Linked DNA regions of Homo sapiens. The protein of the gene in region 1 purifies or fractionates together with the protein of each later gene. This does not show direct contact. Each region holds a gene or a part of one and is shown in the gene's direction. Other genes may lie near its edges.

The links.
Region 2: the proteins of VWCE (region 1) and ZNF77 purify together in Homo sapiens (affinity purification with mass spectrometry; 2 studies listed by BioGRID and IntAct, with this or other methods). This does not show direct contact.
Region 3: the proteins of VWCE (region 1) and ZNF627 purify together in Homo sapiens (affinity purification with mass spectrometry; 2 studies listed by BioGRID and IntAct, with this or other methods). This does not show direct contact.
Region 4: the proteins of VWCE (region 1) and POMT1 purify together in Homo sapiens (affinity purification with mass spectrometry; 2 studies listed by BioGRID and IntAct, with this or other methods). This does not show direct contact.
Region 5: the proteins of VWCE (region 1) and ZNF74 purify together in Homo sapiens (affinity purification with mass spectrometry; 2 studies listed by BioGRID and IntAct, with this or other methods). This does not show direct contact.
Region 6: the proteins of VWCE (region 1) and POMT2 purify together in Homo sapiens (affinity purification with mass spectrometry; 2 studies listed by BioGRID and IntAct, with this or other methods). This does not show direct contact.
Region 7: the proteins of VWCE (region 1) and FBXO21 purify together in Homo sapiens (affinity purification with mass spectrometry; 2 studies listed by BioGRID and IntAct, with this or other methods). This does not show direct contact.

Annotation. Positions count from the first base shown.
Region 1 is NC_000011.10:61,281,446-61,285,820, reverse strand, and holds part of VWCE (von Willebrand factor C and EGF domain-containing protein precursor), read left to right. Parts: intron 1-2,915; coding exon 2,916-3,032; intron 3,033-3,284; exon of another isoform or gene 3,285-3,343; intron 3,344-3,906; coding exon 3,907-4,035; intron 4,036-4,375.
Region 2 is NC_000019.10:2,941,547-2,946,558, reverse strand, and holds the start of ZNF77 (zinc finger protein 77), read left to right. Parts: upstream 1-1,587; 5' UTR 1,588-1,718; coding exon 1,719-1,721; intron 1,722-5,012. UniProt on the Homo sapiens protein: May be involved in transcriptional regulation.
Region 3 is NC_000019.10:11,614,177-11,617,640, forward strand, and holds part of ZNF627 (zinc finger protein 627), read left to right. Parts: intron 1-350; coding exon 351-477; intron 478-650; coding exon 651-711; intron 712-2,518; coding exon 2,519-3,464. UniProt on the Homo sapiens protein: May be involved in transcriptional regulation.
Region 4 is NC_000009.12:131,512,295-131,516,669, forward strand, and holds part of POMT1 (protein O-mannosyl-transferase 1), read left to right. Parts: intron 1-944; coding exon 945-1,037; intron 1,038-3,131; coding exon 3,132-3,228; intron 3,229-4,263; exon of another isoform or gene 4,264-4,375. UniProt on the Homo sapiens protein: Transfers mannosyl residues to the hydroxyl group of serine or threonine residues. Coexpression of both POMT1 and POMT2 is necessary for enzyme activity, expression of either POMT1 or POMT2 alone is insufficient.
Region 5 is NC_000022.11:20,392,318-20,397,163, forward strand, and holds the start of ZNF74 (zinc finger protein 74), read left to right. Parts: upstream 1-1,833; 5' UTR 1,834-2,311; coding exon 2,312-2,345; intron 2,346-3,015; coding exon 3,016-3,101; intron 3,102-4,846. UniProt on the Homo sapiens protein: May play a role in RNA metabolism.
Region 6 is NC_000014.9:77,285,909-77,290,283, reverse strand, and holds part of POMT2 (protein O-mannosyl-transferase 2), read left to right. Parts: intron 1-1,452; coding exon 1,453-1,522; intron 1,523-3,012; coding exon of another isoform or gene 3,013-3,051; intron 3,052-3,461; coding exon 3,462-3,540; intron 3,541-4,375. UniProt on the Homo sapiens protein: Transfers mannosyl residues to the hydroxyl group of serine or threonine residues. Coexpression of both POMT1 and POMT2 is necessary for enzyme activity, expression of either POMT1 or POMT2 alone is insufficient.
Region 7 is NC_000012.12:117,183,368-117,187,742, reverse strand, and holds part of FBXO21 (F-box only protein 21), read left to right. Parts: intron 1-1,171; coding exon 1,172-1,266; intron 1,267-4,375. UniProt on the Homo sapiens protein: Substrate-recognition component of the SCF (SKP1-CUL1-F-box protein)-type E3 ubiquitin ligase complex.

The DNA of each region.
Region 1 (4,375 bases):
AATTGCACCACTGCACTCCAGCCTGGACGACAGAGTGAGACTTCATCTCAGAAAACAAAGTACCTGCTGCTGCTGTTGCAGGATAAAGGGATGGTGATGGAGGAGAGGCCGTGAGGAGAGCCAGGGCAGAGTGGGCCGACCAACCTGGGGAAGGAGGCCACTGAGATGAGGGAGGGCCGGGAGAGACTCAGGCCATGAGTCCCGAGGAGCCATGGGAGGGGCATACCGGGATGGGGTCATTCACTGACTACATTCATCAGTTTCACCTGCCCCACTGCTGGCCCAGGCTCTGGAGCTACCCTGGGGAGTAGGATCCCCCAAGTCTGATGGGGAGCAGAAGAACAAGCTTAGGATGAGGGATAAGTGTTGGGAAAACCCAGGGAAGAGAAGGAATCCTACCTCTTCAGTTTGCAGGATGAGAGATCTTACAATTATTACTCATTCTTTTAAAATGCCTTTTATTTACACATTATGGAAAGAATCTCACAAGGCCGATAATTGTGACCTCCCCCTGAATCTTACATTATTATTTTCTTTATGTTTGACATTTTCATAAATTATGAGAAAAAATTTAAAAGCCATGGTGCTAGCCCAGGCCCTCTTTCCCACTGCTGCCCTCTGCTCTCCCTGGAGAATAGCCTGCGCGTCTTAGTCTGCTTGGGCGGCCATGATAAAATTCCACAGGCTGGGGGCTTCTACCACTGACATTGATTCTCATAGTTCTGGAGGCTGCAAAGTCCAAGATTAAGGCACTGGCTAATTCAGTTTCTGGTGAGGGCTCTTCCTGGCTTTCAGAAAGCAGTCTTCTTGCTGTGTCCTCACTTGGAGAGAGAGCTCTCTGGTATCTCTTCTTCTTCTTTTTTTTTTTTGACATGGAGGAGGACAGAGGACACTCCCTCTGTTGCCCAGGAGTGCATTGTTGCAATCTCAGTTCACTGCAACCTCCGCCTCCTGGGTTCAAGCGATCCTCCAACCCTCCCAAGTAGCTAGGGTTACAGGTGTGCGCCACCACGACTGGCTAATTTTTGTATTTTTAGTAGAGATGAGGTTTCACCATGTTGGCCAGGCTGGTCTTGAACTCCTGACCTCAAATGATCTGCCCGCCTTGGCCTCCTGAAGTGCTGGGATTACAGGCGTGAGCCACCCAGCTAGGCCTCTCATGTCTCTTCTTAAAAGGACACTAATCCCATCAAGAGGGCACACCCTCATGACCTCATGTAACCCTAATTATCTTCTTATCTACTTATCTTACCTGCATATCTTCCAAATGCCATTACATTGGCGGTTAGGGCTTCAACACGATTTTTGAGGGGACAGAGTTTAGTCCATAGCACTCAGGCATTGGTCTGCTGTGTGCCCTCCTTGCCCCTCCCCATGATGTGTACGTACGTACATGGGCACTTACAGAGATAGGATAGTTGCTGAACTCTCAGGTCCTGGGTCCTGGGCTAAGCACTTTACACGCATTTTCTCCTTTCGCCCTCACAATTACCCAGTGAAGTTGGTATTATCTATCTCCATTTTATTGAAAGGAACACTGAGGCTTAAGGAAATTGTTACTTGCTTAAGATCCCATTAGAGCTAAGGTTTTTTTCTTCTTTCTTTCTTTGTTTTTTTTTTGTAGAGATGAGGTCTTGCTGTGTTGCCCAGGCTGGTCTCAAATTCCTGGCCTTAAGCTATCCTTCCCGCTTTGGCCCCCAAAGGGCTGGGATTCCAGGCATGAGCCACTGCACCCAGCCAGAGTTGGGATTTGAACCTAGTCATTCCTTTGCTTGTTCCCCTTACCCCTGCCCAACGTTGGTCTTGAAGATGTTTCCACATCAGGGTAAATAGACTTGCCTTGTTCCTTTTAACTGCTGACTCTGCAGTGCAAATATTTCATAGTTTACTAACTCTTCTCTTATTGATGAACATGGAGATTATTTCCAGTTTTTCACAATTTCAAACAGCACTAGGGAACTTTTACAGAGGAGGTTCCACTGAAGCTGAGTTTTGAAGTATGAGTAGGAGTTTTCCAGCCAGACAAGAGGGAAAGGCATTCGAGGCAGACAGAGAACATGGGCAAAAGTGGAGCACCAAAAGAGCGTGGTGCATTTGGAAGATGGCAAGAATTTAAGCCAGTGGCCAGGTGCAGTGGCTCACGCCTGTAATGGAGGCCAAGGCAGGTGGATCGCCTGAGGTCAGGAGTTTGAGACCAGCCTGACCAACATGGTGAAACCCCATCTCTACTAAAAATACAGAATTACCCAGGCATGGTGGTGCATGCCTGTAATCCCAACTACTTGGGAGGCTGAGGCAGGAGAACTGCTTGAACCCAGGAGATGGAGACCGCAGTGAGCTGAGATCGCGCCATTGTACTCCAGCCTGGGCAAAAAGAGCAAAACTCTGTCTCAAAAAACAACAACAACAACAAAAAAGAATTTAAGCCAGAGTGAAGGTCAGGGGCAAGGAAGGAGGTGGGCAAGGCAACCAGGACTGTGTTCAAAGGCATCGTGAGCTATGGGGCGGCATTGCTGTCTTACCCTAAGATGAGGTCTGTGGCCTGTGGGAGCAGCGGAGAGGTTTTGAGCAGAAGGGCCCTGATTAGAAATGCCCTTTGGTCAGAACATCCTGGAGGCTGTGCAGAGGATGGCTTGAAGGAACCTAGGTAGAGATAGACACACTGGAGGCTCTGGCTATTCTCCAGACTAGAGATGAATGTGGCCGGGCTAAGGGGTAGCAGTGAGGATGAGAGACGTGGGCTGGTCCAGAGAGTATTTAGGACTGGATGTGGGCAGTGCAGAAGAGGGGCAGCTAAGGTGGTTCCCCACAGCCCTGTGTGTATAGGAGATGGAGATGAGGGAGGAAGAGGGGACCATATATTTCCAAGGTTCTGTTGGGGAAATGAACCCCAGTCTTGTCCCTTTTCCTGCCAGACACTGACGAATGCCTAGGGACTCCCTGTCAGCAGAGATGTAAAAACAGCATTGGCAGCTACAAGTGTTCCTGTCGAACTGGCTTCCACCTTCATGGCAACCGGCACTCCTGTGTAGGTAAGGCGGGGAGGACCCTGTGGTCTGCACACTTAGGCTGCCAATCAGGAGGATGGACAGGGAGCCCAGGGACCCGGGAAGGTTAACAATTAGACTTTCTGGTCCTCTGGAGCTTGAAGGGGCTTGAGCCTTTGGCTCAGAGCCTGCCTGTCCCTGGGGTTGGTGTGGCTCTGCATGAAGACCCTGTCTTGGACTTTTCCTGGCCATTTGCCACTTTCATCCTGTTATGTTTCTCTTCCGCTCCTCTCCCAGATACACCCCAAGGATTCCTCTCTGCTCACCCATTTTCTTGGCTGCCTTTGCTCCCCTTGGTAAATAAAGCACGTTATGTCTTGGTTCCTCTGGTTTAGAAGGAGACCCTGTTTTCTCAGCCCATTAGCAGAAATTTCCAGAAAGGGATTGGCATGTTTGGTTTGAGCTTGGCTCATGGGTTTAAGGTGGGGTCCCATGGGCCTGAAAAAAGACCTTGTTCTAGCGGAGTTAGGTATTTGTCCCGAAGCCTTCCTTCAGCAGCCCAGTGAGTTTTGAGACTTTTTTCGGAAAGAAAAACGGGAGGGTGGAAGGTTTGGAGATGAGCTTCTCATTGGGGCTTACCCCTACCACGCAGCAATTAATTACCGCTGCATAGTGCTGGGGCTGAGTCTCTGATACTCGCATTAAATACCTGCTCGATGTGTGAACCTATTAACAAGACAAGCACTAGATTTCAGCCCCGCTCCCAGCTGTCTGAGTCACATCCCGCACCTCGGGGCAGGCATGGACCCTGTAAGAACATGGCAGAGAAACTCCCCAAGTGTTTTGAGCTAAGGGATGGGCGGAAGAAGGGCTCCGTAGCCCAAACAAAGCAGCTGTCCGCAGCGAGGCTCTCCCGCAGATGTAAACGAGTGTCGGAGGCCATTGGAGAGGCGAGTCTGTCACCATTCCTGCCACAACACCGTGGGCAGCTTCCTATGCACATGCCGACCTGGCTTCAGGCTCCGAGCTGACCGCGTGTCCTGTGAAGGTGAGCGCCAGGCCCCTCCATCCCGGCGGCTGGCCACGCCCCCTCAGTGCCTGCCCCAGCTACGCCCCCCCATAGCCTGGCCCCTCCCCGTCACGCCCTCCCGGCGCCCAGCCACGCCCTCTCAGCTCCTGGCCCCGCCCTACCCCGGCCCCGCCCACCTGGCGCTAGGCTCCCTTTCTGCTCTGCCCTTGTTTTGAGTTCATCTTGTTTGTTACTTTCAACACTCCACTTTCTTCCTCGCTTTCTTTTTCCACTTCTTTATCCATTCTTCCTTCTTCTTTTCACTGTTTCCCCAGCCCTTCTGTTTTTTTCCCAAATGATAAAAGGATAAAACCCAACA
Region 2 (5,012 bases), on another chromosome or scaffold:
CTGAATACTTTTATTCAGTTGAGCCGCAATTCCTAAAGCCTGGAACGCGACTGCTCATCTCCGAAAAGACTTTCCAGCTTGAGACAGAGTAGAAGTATAAACTCTATATCGCTTGCCATTTTACATACAAACATAATTGTCGTAATTCATGTTTTTACTGTGTCGACCTAAATAACAGGCTGTCTAAAAACGGTGGTAACAGTTCATTGCAGTGGGAATATGCGCGGCATAGCAAACTATGTGCTTATTCAGGGAGGTAAAGGAAGACAAAGGTTGTTTTTGGTTTTCATTTTTTTGAGACGGGGGTCTCTGTTGCCCAGGCTGGAGTACAATGGTGAGATCACAGCTCACTGCAGCCTCAATCCCCACGGGCTCGAGCGATCCTCCTGCTTCAGCCTATCAAGTCGTTGGGACCATAGGCGCACACTCCTTTATTCCCAGCTAATTTTTGTATTTTTTGTATATATGGGGTTTTGCCATGTTGCCCAGACTGGGACAAAGGTTTATAAAGGAAAAAAAAAATTTTAAATGAGGATTACATCATTTTTCAGAAATAATTATCCTTGTCTACAAAGATCAGTAACAAGGGTCACACCAGTCTGAGTGTCCCTGTAAAAGTATTTTTTGTTTAAGCCTGTGGTTTTTGTAGAGTCTTTTTCGTTATTAAGCATATAAATGTGAGACCTCTCTCTTCATGACCTTACGTGGTTCTGTTTGTGGGAGGGCTGCTTTTTTTTTTTTTGAGACTCAGTTTCGCTCTTGTTGCCCAGGCTGGAGTGCAGTGTCCTGATCTTGGCTCACTGCAATCTCCGCCTCCTGGGTTCAAGCGATTCTCCTGCCTCAGCCTCCGGAGTAGCTGGGATTACAGGCGCCCGCCACCGTGCCCAGCTAATTTTTGTATTTTTAGGAGAGAAGTGGTTTTCGCCATTTTGGTCAGGCTGGACTTGAACTCCTGACCTCTGATGATCCGCCGGTCTCCGCCTCTCACGGTGCTGGGATTACCGGCGTGAACCACCGCGCCCGGCCGAGAGTTTTAAGAACACAGGGAGCGCCTGGTGGGGTCCGGCCTCCTGGGGCCTCGTCGTCTGGTCTCCAGATCTCCAGGTCTCTGGACCCCAGGCGTCCGCGCCCACGCGGGACAGCACGGTGACGTCACGCACGCGGGTCCCGCCCCCACGCAGGACTCCGCCCCATGGGACTCCGTGCCCTTCCTCTCCTCCCCGCACGAGGGGCCGCTCCGAGGGGAAACTGAGTCTGGAGTTGCCGTGCAGTCAGGGAGGAGGACGCCGCGCCCTCCCTGGACTGGAGTGAGTTCTCCCAGATCCGCGGCTGCCCGGCTAGAGGGTCAGCCACGCGTGTTCTCGACGAGCCCGTCACTGAGGAGAGAATTATCCAATCAGGACAGGCAGGGGCGGGGCCTAGGGAACTGTCCAATCAGAGACGTTAATCCGAAGCGGAGCCCTGCCCAATCAAGGGCGCTAGGGGGACGGACTGGAGAATTCTCCAATCAGGGGTGCGGAGTCGACAGCACTGTCCAATCAGAGTCTCCACTTCCCGAGATCTGTCCAATCAGACCCCGAGGACGGTAAGCCGAGTTCCCCTCTGCCTTGCGCGCTTCCCCGCCTACCCCGAGCGGCTCAGGTGTCCTGTCGTGCTCACCTGCGCCGGTCGCTGGACCGCGGGGCGCTAACCCTGGAGAGCCCAGGAGCGGGCGGGACATGGTGAGTGCCGGGCGGGAGCCGAGCCCGGGCCCAGGGCGAGGTGGGGCGGCAGGAACCGGCTTCCGCCCGAGTTCGCAGCCGGAGAAAGCTGAGGGACGCGCGGGGCGGCGCACGACGAGCGCCTGGGCCCCGGGGACGTGGTCACAGCGGCCGAGGGGTAGGGCTGGGGGCAGTCTGGGGTGACAGCAAAAGCGGTCAGGGGCTCGAGGGGTAGTTTCTGGGGACAGTACAGGTCAGGAGTTTGGGGAGAGCTTGTGGGGACAGCAGAGGTGGTCAGGGGCTTGAGGCAATTTAAGTGGACAGTAGAGGTTTAAGGGGCACAGGGGCAGTTTGCGGGAACAGACACGGTCAGGGGCTCGGCGGCAGTTTGGGGGTTCAGTGGAAGGGAGTCAGGCTCAAGGGCAGATTAGGGGGCCAATAGCAGCGGTCAGGAACTCGGGGACAGTTTGAGGGGGCCGTAGAGGCGGTCATGGGTTTGAAGGGGCAGTTTTGGGGGACAGGTGATCAGGGGCTCGAAGGCAGTTTAGGGGGACAGTAGCTGCAGTCGGGAGTTTGGGGGCAGCTCGAGGGGACAGCAGAAGCAGTCAGGGGCTCAGGGGCACTTTAAGGGGGGCAGTAGAGGCGATCAGGGGCTTGAGGGAAGTTTGGGGGGACAGTAAAGGGAGTCGGGCTCGAGGGATGTGTTGGGGGACAGTAGAGGCAGTCAGGGGATCGGGGAGAGTGGGAGGAGAGGGCAGGAGCCGTCAGGGGCTTGGTGGTCAGTTTGGGAAGGTCTGCCAAGGAGGAGGTGGTGCCCTGTCCTGGAGCCTGTCAAATAATAAAATCCTGGGCCGGGCGCGGTGGCTCACGCCTGTAATCCCAGCACTTTGGGAGGCCGAGGCGGGCGGATCACCTGAGGTCAGGAGTTCCAGACCAGCCTGGACAACATGGCGAAATCCCGTCTCTACTAAAAATACAAAAATTAGCCCGGCGTGGTGGCGGGCGCCTGCAATCCCAGCTACCAGGGAGGCTGAGACAGGAGAATGGCGTGAACCTGGGAGGTGGAGCTTGCAGTGAGCCGACATGGCGCCGCTGCACTCCAGCCTGGCGACAGAGAAAGACTCCGTCTCAAAAACAAAAACCAAAAAAAAAAAAAAAAAAAAAAATCCTGGCTAGAGAAGGAGAGAGAAAAATAGGGATAAGCCCCAGCCTCCGAAACCTGCCAGGTCTCAAAATCAACCAGGAAAAGGCTTTACTTTCATACACAAGAAAAGGTTTGGAGGAACGTTTTAGGGGACAAGCAGAAAGGAGGTTGACAGTAAATGTACCTCCTCGTGGTCAGCTAGCTCAGGGGAGGTGACAGGGGACTCCACACTTACTGCTTGCTCAGACTCGGGGGGGCCAAAGTTCAGGGGCCTGCGGAGAGGACAGAAGGCTGAGTAAAGTTTGGGGAAGAAACGGGAGGCTGCGAACATGTGGTCAAGCTTGTGTAAACCCAAACGTAGTAAGGAAACTTTTATGAAAAAGGATTATTGCGAGGTATTGGGGGAGGGGGAGAAGGGGCTGTTGCAATAGGGAGAAGGGTTAGTTGGATTAGAGGCAGGAGAGTAATGCCAGAGGCTTGAGGTTCTATTGCAGTGGGGTGGGGGTATAAGCAACAGGGGCATGGGGACAGTTGATGATTGAGCTGCGGGACTAATGCTGTAGCCACAGGGAGACAGCTGCAGGGGGAGAGCTCTGTGACCGTCAAGTATGCAGGCATCTGAAGAGTTGGCTAGGCCTGGCGCGGTGGCTCATGCCTGTACTCCCAGCACTTTGGGAGGCTGAGGCAGGTGGATCACCTGAGGTCAGGAGTTCAAGACCAGCCTGGCCAACATGGTGAAATCCCATCTCTACTAAAAAATACAAAAATTAGCCGGGCGTGGTAGTGTGTGCCTGTAATCCCAGCTACTTGGAAGGCTGAGGCAGGGAGAATTGCTTGAACTCGGGAGGCAGAGGTTGCAGTGAGCCATGATCACACCACTGCACTCCAGCCTGGGCACACCTAACCTAGTGAATCATTTCTGATGACAAAGAATGGGATTTCGGAGGGTCTGAATCTGGCCTTGTCATCTGCGTGAATCTTATCTAAGTCGTATGGGAAGGGAGGGTCCTGGCTGTCCCAATTCCAGAGCACAGCAGGACGGGGTTTCACCTTTGCTGGTTTCCAGGAGCACAGAGCTGAAGTCAGTTCAACATTGTCACCTGACAGCTGCGAACAGCCTCGTCTGTGTCCAGCTCAGCATTGGTATTGTTCCTATTTCAGCCCCAGGTTTTAGTAAATGTAAAATAATGAGGCCGGGCATGGGGATGCGCACCTGTGGTCCCAGCCACTTGAGAGGCTGAGGGGGGAGAATCGCTTGAGCCCACGAGTTTGAGGCTGTACCACTCCACTCCAGCCTGGGCAACAGAGCTAGACCCTGTCTGGAAAAAAAAAAAAAAAAAAAAAGAGCCGGGCGCGGTGGCTCACACCTGTAATCCTAGCACTTTGAGTGGCTGAGGTGGGCGGATCACAAGGTCAGGAATTCAAGACCACCCTGATTGACATGGGGAAACCCCGTCTCTACTAAAAATATCAAAATTAGCCAGGTGTGATGGCAAGTGCCTGCAATCCCAGCTACTTGGGAGTCTGAGGCAGGAGAATCGCTTGAACCGGGGAGGCGGAGGTTGCAGCGAGCTGAGATTGTTTCACTGCACTCCAGCCTGGGAGACGGAGCAAGACCCTGTCTCAAAAAAAAAAAAAAGAATAAATGCTTTTTGCCTTTTTTTTCTTGTCCTTAGTGAGGGCAGTCATTGTCTTGGATGTGTTCTTTGCCTTCTGCCACTGCCTGGTGTTATACCATGGCTTAGCCCGAGAAGGCTGCTGTGGAAAACTCTCAAACTCGGAAGACGTTGCATCTTCCATTAGGATGAGGGGAAAGGCGCACACACAGCCCCATGCCATATTGTGAGGTGGGCGAAGGTGTGGATTGAAAACATTCATGAAACTAGCACTGACTTAGGCAGGGTGCAGAGTTTGTGACAGTGGGGGACCCTGCTCCGTCTCCTGTTAGTATCTGCGCATCAGACAGATGCGCATTCTGTAATATACGACCCACAGTACAGAGAAGCGGCAATTCCGATTAGGGGACTGACGAACAATTTATCATGAGGATAATCATTAACTGATACCTGTTTTCTGCATGAGACCCTAATCATTAACTGATACCTGTTTTCTGCATGGGACCCTTTGTGGGACAGAAAAACTTCTAGATCTTCTAGAATCCACCACTC
Region 3 (3,464 bases), on another chromosome or scaffold:
CCCAAAGTGTTGGGATTACAGGCGTGAGCCACCGCGCCCAGCCACTACATGTTTGTTACAACAGGTGCTACAGGCCTACCTTACAGAGAGACATTAGGGGTGGCCCAGGCAGTACATACTTCTCCCACCAGAGAGGCATGCTCCTATTCTGCTGTTGCTAGTTCAGTTCTAGCAGCAGAATTGCTTTGTGGAAGGAAGTGAGTCTAGACAGAGGGTAAGTTTGATGACTGTGGAATCTTGAAATAAATGTTTGGAAAGCATAGCATCCTGAGAACTTCTTGGGAATAAAGTCTAGGCCCCCAGTGCTGTCTGTCTCAACCTTCCTCCTCCACACATGGGGGATGTTTCAGGATTCAGTGGCCTTTGAGGATGTGGCTGTGAACTTCACCCTGGAGGAGTGGGCTTTGCTGGATCCTTCCCAGAAGAATCTCTACAGGGATGTGATGCGGGAAACCTTCAGGAACCTGGCTTCTGTAGGTAAGGGTGACAATATTCCTTTCCTCAGTGAATTAGAGAACAAGTGTTTCTAGCTCCTTAACACTTTGGGGAATAAACCAGGCATGGGTACAGGGAATTATGAATATAGAATCTAATACTTTTTTCATAATTTTATACTAATTCATAATGACTTTTCTGGGTCTAAATTTTAGGAAAACAATGGGAAGACCAGAACATTGAAGACCCATTCAAAATTCCCAGGAGAAATATAAGGTAATTTGCACTCACAAAAGAAAGTTCTGTTCCTTGAGAGCATTTCGTATTGTTAGGAATTTTTTTTTTTTTTTTTTTTAGATGAAGTCTCGCTCTGTCGCCAGGCTGGAGTGCAGTGGCACAATCTTGGCTCACTGCAACCTCCGCCTCCCAGGTTCAAGTGATTCTCCTGCCTCAGCCTCCTGAGTAGCTAGGACTACAGGCACGTGCCACCACGCCGAGCTAATTTTTTGTATTTTTAGTAGAGACGGGGTTTCACCATGTTGGCCAGGATGGTCTTGTTCTCTTGACCTCGTGATCTGCCTGCCTCAGCCTCCCAAAGTGCTGGGATTACAGGCCTGAGCCACCATGCCCAGCAGGAATTTTTAAAAGCAAGCAAACAACATATAAGCCCAGCTTCAAACTGTTTTGTTTTTAGAAAATCTTCTCCAAGCCAGGCATGGTGACTCACGCCTGTAATCCCAGCACTTTGGGAGGCTGAGGTGGGCAGATCACGAGGTCAGGAGATCGAGACCATCCTGGCTAACACGGTGAAACTCCGTCTCTACTAAAAATACAAAAAAAAAGTTAGCTGGGTGTGGTGGTGGGTGCCTGTAATCCCAGCTACTCGGGAGGCTGAGACAGGAGAACGGCGTGAATTGGGAGGCAGAGCTTGCTTTGAGCCAAGATGGCACCACTGCACTCCAGCCTGGGTGACAGAGTGAGACTCTGTCTCAAAAAAGAAAAAAAGAAAATCTTCTCCAAAAACATAGTTAAGTGTAACATAGATGTTCAGTGTTTGCAAAATAGTTCAATTATAGATAGTATTAAGAAACTTCATACGAATATCTTTTTTTTTTTTTTTTTGAGAGGGAATTTCACAACTCGTTGCCCAGGCTGGAGTGCAAGGGTGCCATCTTGGCTCACTGCAACCTCCGCCTCCTGGATTCAAGCGATTCTCCTGCCTGAGCCTCCCGAGTAGCTGGGATTACAGGCGCCTGCCACCACACCTGGCTAATTTTTTGTATTTTTAGTAGAGACAGGGTTTCACCATGTTGGCCAGGCTGGTCTTGAACTCCTGACCTCAGGTGATCCACCTGCCTCAGCCTCCGAAAGTGCTGGGATTACAGATGTGAGCCACCACACCTGGCCATGAATATCATTTTCTTTCTTTCTTTTTTTTTTTTTTGAGACAGAGTTTCGCTCTTGTTGCCCAGGCTGAAGTGCAATGGCATGATCTTGGCTCACTGCACCTCTGCCTCCTGGGTTCAAGCAATTCTCCTGCCTCAGCCTCCCGAGTAGCTGGGATTACACGCGTGCTCCACTGCGCCTGGCTAATTTTTTTTATTTTTTATTTTTAGTAGAGACAGGGTTTCTCCACGTTGGTCAAGCTGGTCTTAAACTCCTGACCTCAGGTGATCCTCCTGTCTTGGCCTTCCAAAGTGCCGGGATTACAGGCATAAGCTACTGCGTCTGGCCATGAATATCATTTTTTGATAATAGGTATGGTTGTGACCTATTGCAGACCATTTAGTCCACTCATGTTCAAACAGTTGAGACAGGCATAAAACGTACACTTTCCCTGGTAATGTTAAACATGTGAATCCAAGGCCAGGCATGGTGGCTCACGCCTGTAATCCCAGCACTTTGGGAGGCAGAGGTGAGAGGATCCCTTGAGCCTTGGAGTTCAGGGTTCACGCCTGGGCAACATAGTAAGATTCTGTCTCTGTATTTAAAAACAAGTATATGTAAGTCTAATACCTATTAATAAATATAAAATCATTTATAAACAAAACATTAATAATGTACTTCTCATTTTTCTGACAAGTCATATTCCAGAGAGACTCTGTGAAAGTAAAGAAGGTGGTCAAGGTGAAGAAACCTTCAGCCAGATTCCAGATGGTATTCTGAACAAGAAAACTCCTGGAGTAAAACCGTGTGAAAGCAGTGTGTGTGGAGAAGTTGGCATGGGTCCTTCATCACTTAATAGGCACATCAGAGATCACACTGGACGTGAACCAAATGAATATCAGGAATATGGAAAGAAGTCATATACACGTAACCAGTGTGGACGAGCCTTGAGTTATCATCGCTCTTTTCCAGTACGTGAAAGGACTCATCCTGGAGGAAAGCCCTATGATTGTAAGGAATGTGGAGAAACCTTTATTTCTCTTGTAAGCATTCGAAGACACATGTTAACGCATAGGGGAGGTGTACCTTACAAATGTAAGGTGTGTGGGAAAGCCTTTGATTATCCCAGTTTATTTCGTATACATGAAAGAAGTCACACTGGAGAGAAACCTTATGAATGCAAGCAATGTGGGAAAGCCTTCAGTTGTTCCAGTTACATTAGAATACATGAAAGGACTCACACTGGAGATAAACCCTATGAATGCAAGCAGTGTGGGAAAGCTTTCAGTTGTTCCAAGTACATTCGAATCCATGAACGAACTCACACAGGAGAGAAACCCTACGAATGTAAACAGTGCGGTAAAGCCTTTAGGTGCGCCAGTTCTGTTCGAAGTCACGAGAGGACTCACACCGGAGAGAAACTTTTTGAATGTAAGGAATGCGGGAAGGCTTTGACTTGTCTTGCAAGTGTTAGAAGACACATGATAAAGCACACTGGCAATGGACCTTATAAATGTAAGGTGTGTGGGAAAGCCTTTGATTTCCCCAGTTCATTTCGAATCCATGAAAGGACCCACACTGGAGAGAAACCCTATGATTGTAAGCAATGTGGGAAAGCCTTCAGTTGTTCCAGTTCGTTTCGA
Region 4 (4,375 bases), on another chromosome or scaffold:
AGGAATAGATCATGAGACCCTCAGTGAGCAGCCTGCTCAGTAGCTGCTCTGAGAAGTTTCCAGGCGAGCCTCAATGCCCCGACCTGTGTCCCTCTCCCTTCCTCATAAAAACAAGAACCCCCCTCCTGCAAAAGTAGCATCATCTTGCACACATCCCAGCTAGAGGTGCCCCTTGCTCTCATTCCCATATCCAGTCCTGTGGATTCTGCCCCCAAACAAGGTCTCTAGCTGTCCCGGTCACTGTCTCCTGATGGTGTCCTCCCATTGCTGCCTGCCCAGCTCCAGCACCTGCAGCCCGAGTGGGCTTTTTCTTTTTTTTCTTCTTATTTTTTCGGGGGACAGAGTCCCACCCTGTTGCCCAGGCTGGAGTGCAGTGGTACGATCTCGGCTCACTGCAACCTCCGCTTCCCGGGTTCAAGTGATTCTCCTGCCTCAGCCTCCCGAGTAGATAAGATTACAGGCGCCCACCACCACATCCTGGTAATTTTTGTATTTTTAGTAGAGACGGGGTTTCACCATGTTGGCCAGGCTGGTCTTGAACTCCTGACATCAAGTGGTCCACCCAGCTCAGCCTCCCAAAGTGCTGGGATTGCAGGTGTGAGCCACCACGCCCGGCCCCCTCATACACTTTCATTGGTGGAATGCCCTTCAGAAGGATTCCTTGGCAGTCATGGTACATTTGTCACTGTAGTGTTTGTAGACAAATTCAGAGCAATGCAGGTGTGATGACCGCGGGTAGAATCACATTCGGAAAATGACCTTTGGTTTCAGAAAAGAGCCCAATTAATGTCTGTGCTTTGGTTTCCTGTGTTCACCTCATGTGAGGCACACATGGGTTGGGAGGCAGTCTCAGCCATGAGAATTCAGAGCTGTGCCCCTCCGGTGCAGCTGTTAGTTCGAGGGGACCAGGCTCTGTGTGGTCCCGACAGCACTGTGTCTTCCAGGCACCAGCTGGTGGTGAGCAGCCCTCCGAGACCTGTGAGGCACGGGGACATGGTGCAGCTGGTCCACGGCATGACCACCCGCTCCCTGAACACGTGAGTGTGCCCGCCGTCTGCTCTGCTGCACCTGTGGGTTTCCTCTGTGGTTCTCTGTTCAGACCAAAACGTGAGCCCTGCCTTGGGCCGCTGCCCCCTGTCTACCCATCATCTGCATGTGTAGCAGCTCTTAGACCTACATTTGATGCCGGGAGGGGACCCAGGCCTGGCCGCGGAAGGGAGCGGGGTTAAGAGGAAGCAGGGGCTCTGTGAGGACTGGACAGAAGCACCTAGCACAGCCCATCCTAGGAGAGCTCAGGGCCCCGTGGATGAGTGTACAAGGACAGGCTGGGAATGTTGACCCGCTTTCTATGCAGAGAATGGAGTTTGGGCACACCTCCTTAAAGTGGTCAAGCTTAAAGTATGAGTGAGTCCAAGAAGCCTGGAAGCTCGGGCACGAGTGGAGCCGTGAAGGCTTCTTCCTTCTCAGTCCTTCGTCCTTGTCCGACTTGCCTTCCCGTGGTGCTGGGCACAGTTGCTCACACCCTCCTCCTTCCTCCCTGACTGCTCTCTCCACCGCCTCCTTTTCCTCTGTTGCTCTCAGTCTCTGAGGGCCCTCCGGCCTTGCTGCCTCTGCACAGGCCCAGTCCCGGGGCTACCTCTCCTGGACTTCCACCCGGCTGCCCGGGGCTCACCTCCAGCTCTCCACGACTCCCAGCTCCACAGGGGCGGTCTCTGGCCCTGGCTTTTCTGGTTCTCCCTGGAAAGGGCCCAGTAGCTGAGGCATCACCTGACTCCTTCCCCTCCCCTCCCATTGCATGTTGATTCCATTGGGAGATCCTGTTTCTCAACCTTCAGAACCAGCCCTGGGTAGGGGTCCTTCCTTCTCCCTCTACTCCCACCTCCTGGGGCCTGACCTCTCTACCTCGCAGCAGCCTGTCCGGCCTGCGGACCGTGCACAACCCACTTGCGTTGTTCCTCTGTGCTCAGTGACTCCCGTCACCCGCCAAGGTCCCTGGTGACCCTGACACACTTCACCCCCGCCACCCTGGCTCCCCCCAGCCCTGAAACAACCACCTGCGGGCCCCTTGGGGGCTTCACACTTGCTCCCTCTGCGAGAATGTTCTTGGACTTGGCTCCCCCATGGCCCCTCTATGTAGGGGTCTGCTGGGATGTCACTGCATCCAAAAGTGCCTCCTGGGTGCTGTCCCCCACCATTTGTTTTATTAGTGGCACTCCTACAGGTGCACGCTCTGCCCACCGGCATGATGGCTGTTTCCCAGAGGGCTGTGAGGGCCTTGTCTTGTTCACAGCTGGGTGGCTGCTCCTAGACAGTGCCAGGTGCATGGTGCGGTACCACATGGTTACTGAGTGTGTGGATTAAGAGGAAGTGGGTGTTCCTGACCGGGCGTGCTGGCTCACACCTGTAATCCCAGCACTTTGGGAGGCCAAGGTGGGCAGATCATTTGAGGTCAGGAGTTGGAGACAAGCTGGGCCAACATGGTGAAACCCCGTCTCTACTAAAAATACAAAAATTAGCCAGGCATGGTGGCATGTGCCTGTAATCCCAGCTAGACAGGAGGCTGAGGCAGGAGAATCGCTTGAACCCAGGAGGCAGAGATTGCAGTGAGCTGAGATCGCGCCATTTGCACTCCAGCCTGGGTGACAGAGTGAGACTCCATCTCAAAACAAAAAAGAAGTGGGTGTTCGTTAACATTGAGGTTGATAGCCTTTTCTCCCAGCTTATCTGCTGCGTCCCCAGGCCAGCTGGGCGCAGGGGCGGGCAGCTCAGCCCTGCAAGTTGTAGCATTGGTACTGCCAGCTGGCATCGCAGCAGTACCGGATCGGGCCTGGGCGCACGGTTCCTTCCTCTGAAACTTGGTTCGCTCGTCTAACAGGTGGAAGGTTCCACAGCAGAGTGTCCTTTTCTTTTGGAGATGTTCCCACAGGGCCTCCTGCCTGTTTAGTGTCCACTCCCATCGCCGAGCCTCAAGACCTCCGTCCTCAGTAGCAGCAACTCATGGGACTGGGCCACCCCTTATGGCTGAGCCGGCTTTGTTTCTGAAAAGCAACCTTTTCCTGCCTGAAAGATTTAGTAATTGCCTTCCAGAGGAGTTCAAGGAATTTTCTGAAATCTCGGTCTTGGTTTTCCAGGCATGATGTTGCAGCCCCCCTGAGCCCCCATTCACAGGAGGTCTCCTGCTACATTGACTATAACATCTCCATGCCCGCCCAGAACCTCTGGAGACTGGTGAGTAAGGCTGCGGCTATAGCAGCCACAACCGTCAGTAATGAACACTCCCTCACACGGAGCACTTCCTCACCCGGAGCACTCCCTAACACAGAGCACTTCCTAACAGAACACTTCATCACACGGAGCACTTCCTCTAACACGGAGCACTTCCTCTAACACAGGACACTTCCTCACACGGAACACTTCCTCACACGGAGCACTTCCTGTAACAGGACACTTCCTCACACGGAGCACTTCCTCTAACATGGAGCACTTCCTGTAACACAGGACACTTCCTCACACGGAGCACTTCCTCTAACACAGGACACTTCCTCACACGGAGCACTTCCTCACAGGGAGCACTTTCTCTAACACAGGACACTTCCTCACATGGAGCACTTCCTCACATGGAGCACTTCCTCACAGGGAGCACTTCCTCACACGGAACACTTCCTCTAACACAGGACACTTCCTCTCACACTCACACGGAGCACTTCCTCTAACACAGGACACTTCCTCACACGGAGCACTTCCTCACACGGAGCACTTCCTCTAACACAGGACACTTCCTCACACGGAGCACTTCCTCACATGGAGCACTTCCTCACAGGGAGCACTTCCTCACACGGAACACTTCCTCTAACACAGGACACTCTCACACTCACACGGAGCACTTCCTCTAACACAGGACACTTCCTCACACAGAGCACTTCCTCACACGGAGCACTTCCTCACACGGAACACTTCCTCACACGGAACACTTCCTCACACGGAACACCTCCTCACACGGAACACTTCCTCACACGGAGCACTTCCTCACACGGAACACCTCCTCACACGGAGCACTTCCTCACACGGAGCACTTCCTCTAACAGAACACTTCCTCACACGGAGCACTTCCTCACAGGGAGCACTCCATCACACGGAGCACTTGCTCACACGGAGCACTTCCTGACATGGAATGTTTGAAACTGCCGTTGAGAATAATCATTTTTCCTTTTTTTCAGTTTACCCAGTTGAGGTTGGATATTTAGAATAATTCTGATTCAGATGTAAAGTTACATAAGTTTTATTCGTACATAAAGTCACAGATGTTTTCACAGGGAACCGATGCGTCTTCCTTGGTGGAACTGGGGAACCTGGTGGTTTCCTGCATCAGAGGCCT
Region 5 (4,846 bases), on another chromosome or scaffold:
CCACCAGACTCAGAAGCCCAGCTGGCTTCACCCAGTGGATCCCGCACCGGGGCCGCAGGTGGAGCTGCCTTCCAGTCCCGCGCCGTGCGCCCGCACTCCTCAGCCCTTGGGTGGTCGATGGGACTGGGCGCCGTGGAGCAGGGGGCGGCGCTTGTCGGGGAGGCTTGGGCCGCGCAGGAGCCCACGGCGGTGGGTAGGCTCAGGCATGGCGGGCTGCAGGTCCCGAGCCCTGCCCCGCGGGGAGGCAACGAAGGCCCGGCGAGAAGTCGAGCACAGCAGCTGCTGGCCCAGGTGCTAAGCCCCTCACTGCCCGGGTCCGGCTGGCAGCTCCGAGTGCGGGGCCCGCTGAGCCCACGCCCACCCGGAACTCGTGCTGGCCCGCAAGCGCTGCGCGCAGTCCCGGTTCCCGCCCGCGCCTCTCCCTCCACACCTCTCGGCAAGCTGAGGGAGCCGGCTCCGGCCGCAGCCAGCCCAGGAAGGGGCTCCCACAGTGCAGCGGTGGGCTGAAGGGCTCCTCAAGCGCGGCCAGAGTGGGCGCCAAGGCCGACTAGGCGCCGAGAGCGAGCAAGGGCTGTGAGGACTGCCAGCACGCTGTCCCCTCTCACTGGGTTGCTATTAAAAATGGGCGCTGAATATAAAAATTAACCGGGCGTGGTGGTGCATGTCTGTAAGTCCCAGCTACTCCGGAGGCTGAGGTGGGAGAATAGTTTGAGCCCGAGAGACTGAGGCTACGGTGAGCCGTGATTGTGCAACTGCACTCCAGCCTGGGCGACAGAGTGAGACCCAGTCTCAAAACAAAATCAAACACGGGCGCTGCCCTGGGCAGGGGAGGTCTGGGCACAGCTGTGCTGATGTGGGCAGTGGACAGGTGTCACGTGAGAGCCTGTGGCCAAGCCTAAGCTGCGGTTAAGGTGGGAGGCTGAAGGGTTTGGAGTGTGCACCACCCCGGACCACCTCTCAGTAGGAATGTGGCAATGCACTTCGGTGCTGGATTCCTACTTCTGGCTGTGTGATTTGCGACACGTTACCCCACGCACCTGTACCACAACTTCCTCATCTCCCAAATGGGATGACAGTAGTTAGCAAACCTCCCTGGACTGCTGTGAGCATTCTGCCAGAAAAATGTACTCCAAGCTCTTGAAGTAGGCCTGGCGTTTGGTTGGTGCTCAGTACATATTCAATGTTTCTGTCGCTGGCGTCATCACTGTGTTCATGGCAGAGCTCTGTGCCGCCAGGACTGGGCCGCCACCCAGACCTTCCTTTCCCGCCCCAGGGGTGAACTGTGGACAGGACCCTCTGGGGGGACTAGGCCAAGGCTCTCCCACCTCTGGGGACCCGCGCCCATGGGCCTCAGATATGTGGCTCGAGAAGGGGGAGTGGGGGCAGGGCCCCTGGAAAACCCCTCGAGGCCAGACCCACCACTCCCAATATCCGTAAGACCAGGGGCTTGAGTCTTTCCTGCAGACAGATGTGGGCAGGAACCCACCCGACTCCCAGCTACGTGGGGACGTGGACGAACTAACAGGACAAATTCTAGTTCCTGGACACCGCCCTCCCAGTATCCTCGCAATTAGACACCCATGCAGCGGCACTACACTGATCCGCACACGGAGATACACAGCGACATCCGCCCGCAAGAGCATGGTGGGTGCCGGAGCTCCCGGCTGTGGGCCCAGGAACTACATTTCCTAGAAGGATGTGCTAGATACTCGTTCGCGTCGGGACGCAAGCACCGGCCCGAACTCGCTCTAGGAAATGGAGTCTGACGCCTGCGCGGCGCAAACGCTCCCGGGAGGTGTAGTTTGCGCCTATTTCGCGCAGGCGCGCTTTCCCGCAGCGGCCGCCTGCTGCTCTTTGTGGCAGTCGCAGTCCTTTTGTGGGAGTCCGGTCTGTCCACTTGCCGGTCCCTCAGACCGTCGGCGGTCTCTGTCCGCTTCGGGACCTGTCCGCTGGTCGCTCCGCGTCCGATGGCTCCTGGCCGCGGAACCTTAGGCCTGGCCCTGGTCTCCGAGCGCGGGTTCGCCGGGAGGAGCGTGTGGCGGGGGTGTGCCGGGGCGTGAGTGCGCCGAGCATGGGGCTGAGCCTGGTGTGGGGAGTGGGTATCTGCGGAGCCGGCCTGAACCCCACCTCAGCCGGGCGCGGGGAGGGGGCTCCGTGCGTGTGATCGTGCAGCTGTGAGCGCGTGGCCGCCCCGCGGGGCTCCGCTGCAGGCCCCTCAGCCCCAGGAGCAGTACTCGCTCTTCAGGGCCTGCCCTGGATCCTGGAGGCTACACAGCTGCCCACTCCTCCTGGGGAGGCTGCCGTGGAGGCCATGGAGATCCCTGCCCCGGAGCCCGAGAAGACAGGTACAGCTTCACTCTTGTAGTCAGTATGTCTGTGGATTTGCACTTGAGGATATTGACACTCAGAGAGATCAGGCCAGTTTCCCAGAAGCATCCAGCATCTTTTTTTTTTTTTTTAAATGGAATCTCACTCTGTCACCCAGGCGGGAGTGGTGCAATGGCTTGATCTCCGCTCACTGCAACCTCTGCTTCCCGGGTTCAAACTATTCTCCCGCCTCAACCTCCCAAGTAGTTGGGATTGCAGGCGCGCGCCACCACGCCCGGCTAATGTTTGTATTTTTAGTAGAGACGGGGTTTTGCCATGTTTCCCAGGCTGGTCTTAAGCTCAAGCGATCCGCCCGCCTCGGCCTCCCAAAGTGCTGGGATTACAGGCGTGAGCCATCGCTCCTGGCCTCCTGCTTCTTTCTTCCCCGCGCCCAATCATTTGTTCCCACTCAGACGTGCTTGATTGGGGGTAGCAGCTCTTTTCGTCATGAATTGGAGTGTCTGAGACACAGGCAGATTATTCCTCGATGCTGTTTCTGTTGGTGCTAGCTACTGGGGCTCGTTCCCCACCTGGCCTTGCTGGCAGGTTCTGCCTCCTCTCTGATTCTCACTTGTGCCACGACAGGTGGGCTTTAAGCTCAGCCGTGAGCCTGGTAGCCGTGACCTTGACTCATTTCTCCTTCGCCAGCTCTTTCCTCTCAGGATCCTGCTCTTTCCCTGAAAGAGAATCTCGAGGATATATCGGGTTGGGGTCTTCCCGAAGCCAGGTCCAAGGTGAGTGGCTGTGTGTTCTTCCTTCTTTATGAAGAGGGTTGGCACATTCCCTCCCCAGCCCTGGATCGTCAGCCTTCCACAGACCTTCACCCGGGTACCTGCTGGCCAGTCCTCAGGAAGCTCTGGGCAGTGGGAACAGCTCCAAGTGAAGAGTCCAGATGTTGCCCGAGGTGTGCCCTCGAGATGTGCTCTATTGAATGTCTCGCCCAGTCCAATTCAGTGGGTCAGTTGCTGGGGATCTCTCTGCCCAGCGCTGTGCTGGGAGCTCTGAGGAGTGGTTTTAGTGGAATCTGAGAAAGTAGTTGACGGCTCACATGGGGTCGCTTTGCCTATCCACGTGCTGGCCAGGGGTTGGTGCAGGATGTTTGCACGGTTGGTTTACTGGGACTGGAATCAGACAGGGGCACGTGGAGCAGCTCAGGAAGGGCTGGATTGCAGCACTTGGTTAAGAGTGGCGGTAGGGGACACATCCCTGTGTGCTTTCCTCTGTACCCAGCCCCTGGCATGGGGCCTTCATGGAGAGTCCTGGAGATTTAGAGAATCTGGGGGCTCAGCAAGGAATTGGCCCTGGGAACTTCTGCAGCCAAATGGGACCCAGATCCCTCCTTTTACAGACTGTGAACTCTGTTCCTCATTTTGTTTTTCTACCGCAACCACCTCACCCCATGGTTGTATTTAGAAGGGTGCAGTTGACAAAGAGAGCACAGTAGAGTGAAAGATGTGGAGGAATAAGGGGTCTTTGGGTTTTTGTTTTTTTTTTAGCATTTTGTGATTTTGTCAGTCTGCCACTCAAAAGAGGTGATGGCAGATTATAGCCAGCTAGAAACAGCTGCAAAACGTGTATTGTGAGCTGTGCCTCACTTCTGTAGTGTGTCACAATGCTTTATAGTCCTCAAGAAACTTGACAGTCAAATGCAATGCATGTTCCTTGCTTAGGGGATAGATCCAAAAAAATTGATAAAGGGCAGTTTGGGACAAGAGGAAATTTGAAAATGGGCTGTATCTTAGGTCATATTGTATCAATATGAAATTTATTGCATGTGATAATAGTACTGTGATTATGTAAGAGAATATCCACAGGAGATACAAGCTGAAGACTGTAGAGTGAGACATCATGATGTCTGCAACTTACCTTCAAATGGTTCAGCAAAAAAAAATGTGTGTGCATGTATGTATGTCTGTATGTGTCTGTGCAGCTCCGTCTAGGTGGTAGGGCCCTCATGCATGTGTTATTCCTATTCCTAAAATATTAGCTTGTTAGATCTTTGAATAACCAGTTGACTCTCCTGAGTACACATCAGCTTTGGCATTTTCTCTTGACAGTCTCATTCTCACTCACAGTTCAAGTTGTTCTGTCTCCTGGGACATCTTGTGTGGTCTGTTCTGACTTCTCTGCTAGTGTCATTACCACATCAGCATCTGATTCCAATGCATACTGTCTGGGTTTTTTATTCCTTTCCCTGCAGAATGATGACACATTAGACATGGACTTCTCCCAGTGGCCAGAAATACCCATCAAAAAGGCCTGTGCGGGCCTCAGACCCTACCCTACTCTTGCTGGTTTTGCTCCCCACACTGAAGCCATGTAGCCTCTGACAGCCTCACTGGCCAACACCATATTCTGATACCTGTGGAGCTATTTTTTTGTTTTTCTTTCTTTTTCTTTTTTTTTTTTTGAGACAGAGTCTTGCTCTGTCGCCCAGGCTGGAGTGCAGTGGCACAATCATAGCTCACTGCAGCCTTCA
Region 6 (4,375 bases), on another chromosome or scaffold:
GGAGTTACGAGGGAAGACCAGTTTTACTTCCGTCATGTGGTCATGAACCAAGTCTTTGAACATTCCTAGTCTGTTATTCCATTGTGACTTCTGAGTTAAGATGGTTGCATTTCATCGAAGTGATTAAGGATTTTGTGGGAGCTTTATAGACTAGGGTCTTTGTGTTCTTGAAGGCTATAAATGCCCCTCCCCACCAAATGCATATGAAATAAAACCTCCCTCCCTATTGACTTAGTTGATTTGTCATCTTGCTAATTAATGCTTTTAAGAGACCCTAACAGGCAGCATGGAAATGGGTGTCTCTGCGGTTGAGTTCTCTGATTCTCTTGAGAGCCAGTGATTTGCACTGGCAAATTTATCTTTCCTGACCTTGATCAATTTATAGTGTGTTGGTATCTCACTGTTTGGGACAGAAATTTGCAAGGATCCATTCTGTGTTGCTATGATTACTGCCAGCTCCTTTTCCATGTCATCACCTTTCTAGATCCTGATTGGTCTTGATTTTGAGATGATACAGAAGTAGTCCTTTAATCATTTCATCATTATTCACCTCACATTTAGCAAGTTTATTGCCAGAGACAAGATACTCGCTGGCAAGATTGTCAGGGTTTATTTGATTTTGAGGAGAGTTGGGCAAGTGGTCATTTGTATGGAATTACTTTTTAGAAGGCTGTTATTACTACTAAAGTCTTACTATTTAGCTTCCCAGCTTAAGCTCCAGTGGGGGCTTCAGTGCCTCATCGGGTAAAGGCCACATTCCAGCCTGGAATATGCAGTCTGGCCACACTCGTTCATAGCCTCATCTGTTCCCACTCTCCCCCACCCCACCCACCCTTACAGTATGAAACCCATTTGCTATTCATCGAAGGAGTTTTTCTTCTTCTTTTTTTTTGGAGACAGAGTCTTGCTCTGTCACCCAGGCTGGAATGCAGTGGCGCAATCTCGGCTTACTGCAACCTCCGCCTCCCGGGTTCAAGCGATTCTCCTGCCTCAGCCTCTCGAGTAGCTGGGACTACAGGCGTGCACCACCACGCCCGGCTATTATTTGTATTTTTAGTAGAGATGGGGTTTCACCATGTTGGCCAGGCTTGTCTCGAATTCCTGGCCTCAGGTGTTCTGCCCGCCTCGGTCTCCCAAAGGGCTAGGATTACAGGCGTGAGCCACTGTGCCCGGCCAGAAGTTTTCTTCTTTCACACTTCTAGTGCCTTTCTCCTGCTTGTTCACCTGACAAAATTCTCCCTTTCCCTTAAGAGTCTTTTCGAGCATTATCTCTGGGACACCCTTCTCTAATACCCTGAAGCAATTTAGGGGTCTTTCCTCTTTGGTCTCAGAGTACCTGGTTAGTACCTCTAGCAGATACCACATGGTACTATAACTGTTTACCAGTAGGCCCTTGATTAATACTAGCCTGGTGAGTGATTTTGGATATCAATGCTTGTTTCTTTTTGGCAGATCCCCTAGACCCTTCCTTCCCAGTGGAGTTTGTAAGACATGGAGACATTATTCGACTAGAACACAAAGAGTAAGTCAATTTGCAGTTTGGATAAATAAATGGTACGGGCACCAAGGGGAGGGAGTTATTTTAAGAAGTAAACAGAAGTTAGATTTTGATGAGGCTCTGGTCAATGGAGCAAGGCCACAGTGCGAGAATGGGAGAAGCATTTTATGAAGGTGATGAAATTGCAGGCCAGCCTTTGCCTGCCTTCTGGGGACCTTTCAATTTCCCATTTCCTAGAGGAAAATTTGAGTTGCTGAAAGCTGCTGCTGCTGTTTTTTTTTGAGACAGAGTCTCACTATGTTACCCAGGCTGGCCTCAGAGTCCTGGGCTCAAGCGATCCTCCCGCTTCAGCCTCCCAAATGGTTGCTATTACAGGCATGAGCCATCACACCCAGCTCCCAAAGCTTCTTCTTAAGTGGCTGCCTTTAGAAAGACGTAGGAGTCTGTTTCTGAGAATATGGCAAGCTAGCTTATTTAACCAGTGTTCTCACTGAAAATGACTAAAAATGCTGGAATAATATAAAGACTTCTTAAGAGCATAAAAAGGCTGACAAGATATTAAAGAGTTACCAGGCCAAAGCCTAAGTGAAATGAGGAATCCAGAGAAATAAGTGAGACACTGAAGCCACTTTTGCTTTGATCCCACAATCTTGACTTTTGGCTGTCTCTTGAGAGAAGAGGTTTTAAAGTCAAACCTAGGCTCACCCAAAGTGGTAAATTTATTAAGTTATCCTTCCCCATATTTGGAACCCCCAAAGGCTTGGGGTAAGGGTAAATCTGCCCTATCCACTTATGCCCAGGTCCACTTTAGGACCCAGCTAAGTGTTGGGGGTTGGGTGGTGAACTGTCCTTAGTTCCTGAGAAGTTGGAACTACCATTTGATCCTCACATGAACTTGGAGCTCAAATTCATGTTGCCTGGGTGATCTCAGAATCTCCAAGACATGAATTTAAATGAACATGATCCTAGATTGGTCGTGTCTCCTAGGTGCATGGCTAAAAGCAAATGTAAGCCCTCTTTGGGGAAAGTCGTTGTCATTTGTTCCCATAGTTTTTTAGTGACAATAGTACACACCCAAAAGTAACAAAGCACACAAGGAAATAGGGCACTGTGTGCAAGAACAAGCTGAAACGACAGACAGCAGGAGCAGCCCCGTAAACATTTCATAGACTGGAATTATCGGATACAAATTTTTAAAAATCAGAGGTGTGTATGTGTGTGGGTATATATATATATATATAGAGAGAGAGAGAGAGAGAGAGAGAGACAGAGACAGAGAGAGAAGCAATTAGCTATGGTTTTTTTTTGAGTCAGCTGGATTTTGAATACTTAAAATTTTTATTTTATTAAATAAATTTCATTTGTCATTAATAAAAATTTATTGTAATTAAATTTTACTTTTGCAAATTTTCAGAAATTTTATAATGAACATTTATTATTTGTTCCAGATAAAAGTGAGAGTTGTTATATAAAACTAAATAAAAGCTAAATTAAACCCCTCTCATCCTCCACAGATGTCCACTTAAAAAAATCTGGCGATGGGAGCAGAAAGAGTAAGTGGCAGTGAGGAGGTTACCTAGCTCAGGCCATGCAGATTACAAGTTTTAATTTTTCCTCTCCTCAAACCTGCCTCCTAAGTCAGGCAAGCTAAGTGCTTCAAAGCTACTAAATGTGTGAAAGTCGCCCCCCACCTCCCTGCCAGCACCTAAAGTTAGCCCCTTTCTTGGCATGCCGTCCAGTGCTCCTACCATCTGTCTCTCCTGGTTTGGGCTCATCTCTTCTCCAGTTCTCAGGATATTTCTTGTGAGTAAATAGGAAACCAGTTCCTGATATGTTGGATTTAATAGTTCAGATTCTAATTTTTCTTATCCTGACAGTTGACTCTGAACATCCTTGGTAAAAGAAGAAATGTTGCACATCATCTTTCTATAGGATAATGACACTTCTCTTTTCTAACTTCTAGAACTTCCCGGAACTTGCACAGTCACTATCATGAGGCCCCCATGACCCGGAAGCACTATCAGGTCACCGGCTATGGCATAGTAAGTAAGCAACGGGGATGTGAGTAGGACGTAAAAGTTATGGGCCTTGGCTCAGGGCTGTGTGGTGGGATATCTCCTCCCCAGAATTCTGGAATGTTCCTGAGGATAAGAGGCTGCACAGGGACTCTCTTAACATTTGGGCACTTTTTGGCTAGGCCTGCTCTGGGAAAAGCAGCCTATGAAGTCTGTTTGTCTCCATCTCTCTCCTCACATAATAACCATGCCATTTACATGCTCTGATACTTAATAAATGTCAAATATGAATACTATTTGGATCTCTTTTAAAATCACATTGGACATAGAAGCCAAGGACCCACAATATGACCCCAGATGAACAACATGTATGTTTATCTTTTGCCAGATCCCAAATTCTCATTAGCTTTATTTTTAAGTATCATTTCCCTGTTCTGCAGAGGGATATTATCCATAGCTTTTGTATTTTACTACCTCAAGGAGATGCAGCTAATAAATAAAAGCTCTATGAGTACTTATGGCTTTGGGAGTAACTGAAGACAAAAACTACTAGTGGAAAACTGTATACAGATTCTGGCCTTCAGGTGGATTTCCCAGCCCTCTTTCTGTTTGCTCATTCCACATTGTGCTAGGTCAAGACTGTGAACATTCTAATCTTCTTTGTGGGCATCTTCTGAGAAGAATTAGACATACATGTCTTAATTTCCAAAGTGCAATAGCCAGGCCAGACCTTTCTGGCTTAGATGAGTGAATACCTAGATAGCCAAGGTAATGGATGCAAATGGCCCAGATCTGTTTCTGTTGGCTCAGAGTGATGTCTTGAGTTTGGTTGAAGGGCAAAGACAGGTATTTAGAACTTGAA
Region 7 (4,375 bases), on another chromosome or scaffold:
GTCCAGCTGGTTTTGTGTATGTTTTGAACAGTCTGTGCCTCTGTGTAATAATGATGGATTGTTGTGTTTTTTCCTCAGCTCCCCCTTTTCCTGTACCACTGCTTAATTAGAAGTATGTCAAGGACTTTGAACACAGCGGGAGCATACTTAACATTAATCTGTGGGTGGGTGATTGCTTTGGCCCGGGATCTTGGCGTTCCTGTGTTCTCAGAATGCACACAGGTTGACCTGAAATGTTCTGGCTACTTGCAAAAAGAAAACTGAGAGAAGCCATAGAATTTTAAACTCAGAAGATCTTTTTTTTTTTTTTTTTTTTTTTTTTGAGACAGAGTTTCACTCTTGTTGCCCAGGCTGGAGTGCAATGGTGTGATCTCAGCTTACCGCAACCTCTGCCTCCCAGGTTCAAGTGATTCTCCTGCCTCAGCCTCCCGAGTAGCTGGGATTACTGGCATGCGCCACTACGCCTGGCTAATTTTGTATTTTTAGTAGAGATGGGGTTTCTCTATGTTGGTCAGGCTGGTCTCGAGCTCCTGACCTCAGGTGATCCGCCCACCTCAGCCTCCCGAAGTGCTGGGATTACAGGCGTGAGCCACTGCACCTGCCGCCGCCGCCTTTTTATTTTTTTTAAAACGGAGTTTCATTCTTGTTGCCCAGGCTGGAGTGCAATGGCGCAATCTTGGCTCACTGTAACCTCCGCCTCCCGGGTTCAAGTGATTCTCCTGCCTCAGCCTCCCAAGTAGCTGGGATTACAGGCATGCCTGGCTAATTTTGTATTTTTAGTAGACATGGGGTTTCACCACGTTGATCAGGCTGGTCTCAAACTCCTTACCTCAGGTTATCTGCCTGCCTTGGCCTCCCAAAGTTCTGGGATTACAGTCATGAACCACTATGGCCGGCCAGAGCTAGTTTTCTTTACGTTAGAACTGTGAGTTGTCAGTTTCAGAAATTCCAGTCTATGAAAACATCATTGATTACAAACAACAACAAAACCTCAGTAAATTATTGTTACTTTATGTTATTTTCTACCCATGACTGGTAGTGCAAGGTAGTGTAGAATAACTGTTAGCACTGTCTTTAGTAGTGGACATCTTTATTTCAGCTCAAATTTGTGAGAGTGAGAGTTGCATCAATACTCATAATTGAGGCCTACTTGTATATGTCTTCTTCATAGGTTCCTTGTAATGGCTTCAGTGACATTGAGAACCTTGAAGGACCAGAGATTTTTTTTGAGGATGAACTGGTGTGTATCCTAAATATGGAAGGAAGGTAAGCCATAGCTTTAGCAGGGATTTGTTTGCTTTAATAAGTCCAGAGTAAATTGCTGTAATTTCTGTGTGGCTAAACCCTGGAATATGTGATTCCAAATATTTCACGCCTTGTCATAGTTACAGTTTTGAAAAGTTCTGTGTATATTAGGTAGATACACCAAGACAATTGACATATAAAGAAACCTTACAAAAATCCTTTTGGAAAGAAAATGGAATTAATGTTTAGCACTACTATGGGTCAAATACTGTGCCCCAGACCCTTGTATCTGTTGTGTTGTTTAGAAACCTTTTGGTAATAGGCCAGGCACGGTGGCTCACGCCTGTAATCCCAGCACTTTGGGAGGCCGAGATGGGCGGATCACCTGAAGTCAGGAGTTCGCGACCAGCCTGGCCAACGTGGTGAAACCCCATCTCTACTTAAAAAAATACAAAAAATTAGCTGGGTGTGGTGGTACACACCTGTAATCCCAGCTACTCGGGAGGCTGAGGCAGAAGAATCATTTGAACCCGGGAGGTGGAGGTTGCAGTGAGCCGAGATTGCACCATTGCACTCCAGACTGGGGGACAAGAGCAAGACTTCGTCTCATAAAAAAAAGAAACCTTCTGGTAATATAAATCATCCTTCCTTCATTATTACCTCTCCACTTACTATCAGATTTGCCTATCATGAATTGAATCTTTTAATTTAAAAATAATAATTTCTTAGGCATGTCTTAATTTAATGGATGATTTTTTACAATTTCTGAATTGCGGTACAAAATAATCTACTTTGTTCTTTGAACACTGTAGATCTTTGGGTGAGCCTTTCTTTTATCTTCCAGTCAGAAAACTGCGTACTTAGGGACTCACTTGATCAAGAAGAACCCCTTATGTCTTGGTTATTGCTTAAAATTTCATATACCTTTTATTTTCTGCTGTGAAGGTTAATTTCCAGTTTTTCCCTGAAAGATGAGTGGGCTTCCAGCCTAACTTTCCTGTGGAAAAGACTTTCTGTTCTAAAAGTTCTGAAAACTTTCTAGTGATGGAAGATAAGAATGTTAGTTTAACATCTTCCTTAAAAGGAATCTTTGCGAAATATCTCACAAACAAGGCATGAAATATTTATGTTGTTTTTTAAAGGGGATTTAGGAGAGAGAAATATCTATCAGTGGAACAACTGTGGGTAGAGGTAAGATGTGTCACTATTCTAGGCCTTGGATGAGTTCAGATGCAGAGGTCATTTTTCCATTTCTATTTTGGTTTATCTATAAATGAATTGAAGTATGATCTAGTAGTCAGTATTGTGCAGTCTTAAAAATAAAAGCTGACTTGTGTTTTTTAATGTGCATATGTACTTTAAAATACATAAATGGGACCTCATACCTACTTTGTTGGTTGTTTTGGTTTGGTGTTTAGTACAGACCTGGTTTTTCTCTTATTTATGCTGTTTCCTTTTTCCTCCCCATTCCCTCTGTTTACATTGTCCTTTCCTGCCCCCACCTCTGTAATTCTTGATAACAGCCCAGGTTGCATTCTTCTTGCTGACAGTGATGAGTATGGGAAGGGATCATTATTGCACAAAATTGGGATCACATAATAGGTACTTTTCTATATTGTTTTTTCTCATTCAACAGTACCTTATGGAAATCCATCCTCTTCAACGGGTAAAACATCAAAATCACTATTGTTAATGTCTACTTACTCTTTTGTGGTATGTTACATAATTTATTTACTTATTTTTATTTTTTTGAGATGGAATTTCGCTCTTGTAGCCCAGGCTGGAGTGCAATGGCGTGATCTTGGCAACCTCTGCCTCCTGGGTCCAAGAGATTGTCCTGCTTCAGCCTCCTGAGTAGCTGGGATTACAGGTGCCCACCACCACACCCAGCTAATTTTGTATTTTTAGTAGAAACGGTGTTTCTCCCTCTTGGTCAGGCTGGTCTCAAACTCCTGATGTCACGTGATCTGCTGGTCTCGGCTTCCCAGAGTGCTGAGATTATGGGCGTGAGCCACCGTGCCTAGCCTACATAATTTTCCTATAGATGGACAACCACTTTTTTTTCCATTTTGTGTCACTGTGAGGAGTGATGTTTCTAGGCAGTAGAGTCCTGGGAATGGGTTTCCCAGTTCAGACTATAGGATGTTATTGAAAGACATAAAATAGATAGCATGTCCTGGAATGTGAAGACTTGCTATCACAAAAAATGTCAGTTCTCCCCAAATTAATTTATAAACCTAGTGTCATTCCAATTAGGATTCAAACAAAGTATTTTTGTTGGGGGTGGTGAGCAGGGGGGAGTTGTTTTGCTTTTTTCTTTTCTTTCATTTGGATGTCATAAAATATATACAGAAGACTAAATTCACAAGAAGAGCCAGAAAACAATTTTTCAGTAATCATAATGGGAAACTGGCATCACTAGATATTAGGCCATCTTATAAAGCTACTTATAATCCAAACAGCACAGTGATTCAATAAAAATAGCTGCATCAGTAGCAGAGGATAATTGACAAATGCATCCCAGAATAAAAGATAATTTAATATATTTAAACTCAGAGGGAAAAAATGGATTTTTAAAGAAATGGTACTGGACATAACTGAATATCCAGCTGGAAGAAAGGAAAACGTGCATCATATGCAAACATTTTTCCAAAGGATGAAACAACTGAAATTTTTAAATGATCACAGTGAACATTCCTCAAGAAAATAGGAGACTTTGTATAGTCTAAGGGAGACCACCTTAACCAAGAAGGACAATGCGGAGACAGTGAAAGAGCAGACACTTCTATATGGCCAAGAGAGCATGAACGAAGTCAGTAGAACTCAAGAGATATTGAAAAATGTTCAAAGGTTAGGAGGATGACATTCACAGAAGAACAAATCCTAACATCTAACAATCACGGAAAACTTTTAATACACTATTCAAAAAGTGTTAAATAGGCCGGGTGCAGTGGCTCACGCCTGTAATCCCAGCACTTTGGGAGGCCAAGTCCTTGGATCATCTGAGGTCAGGAGTTCGACACCAGCCTGGCCAACATGATGAAACCCTGTCTCTACAAAAAATACAAAAATTAGCCAGACATGGTGGCAGGTGCCTGTAATCCCAGCTACTGGGGAGGCTGAGGCAGGA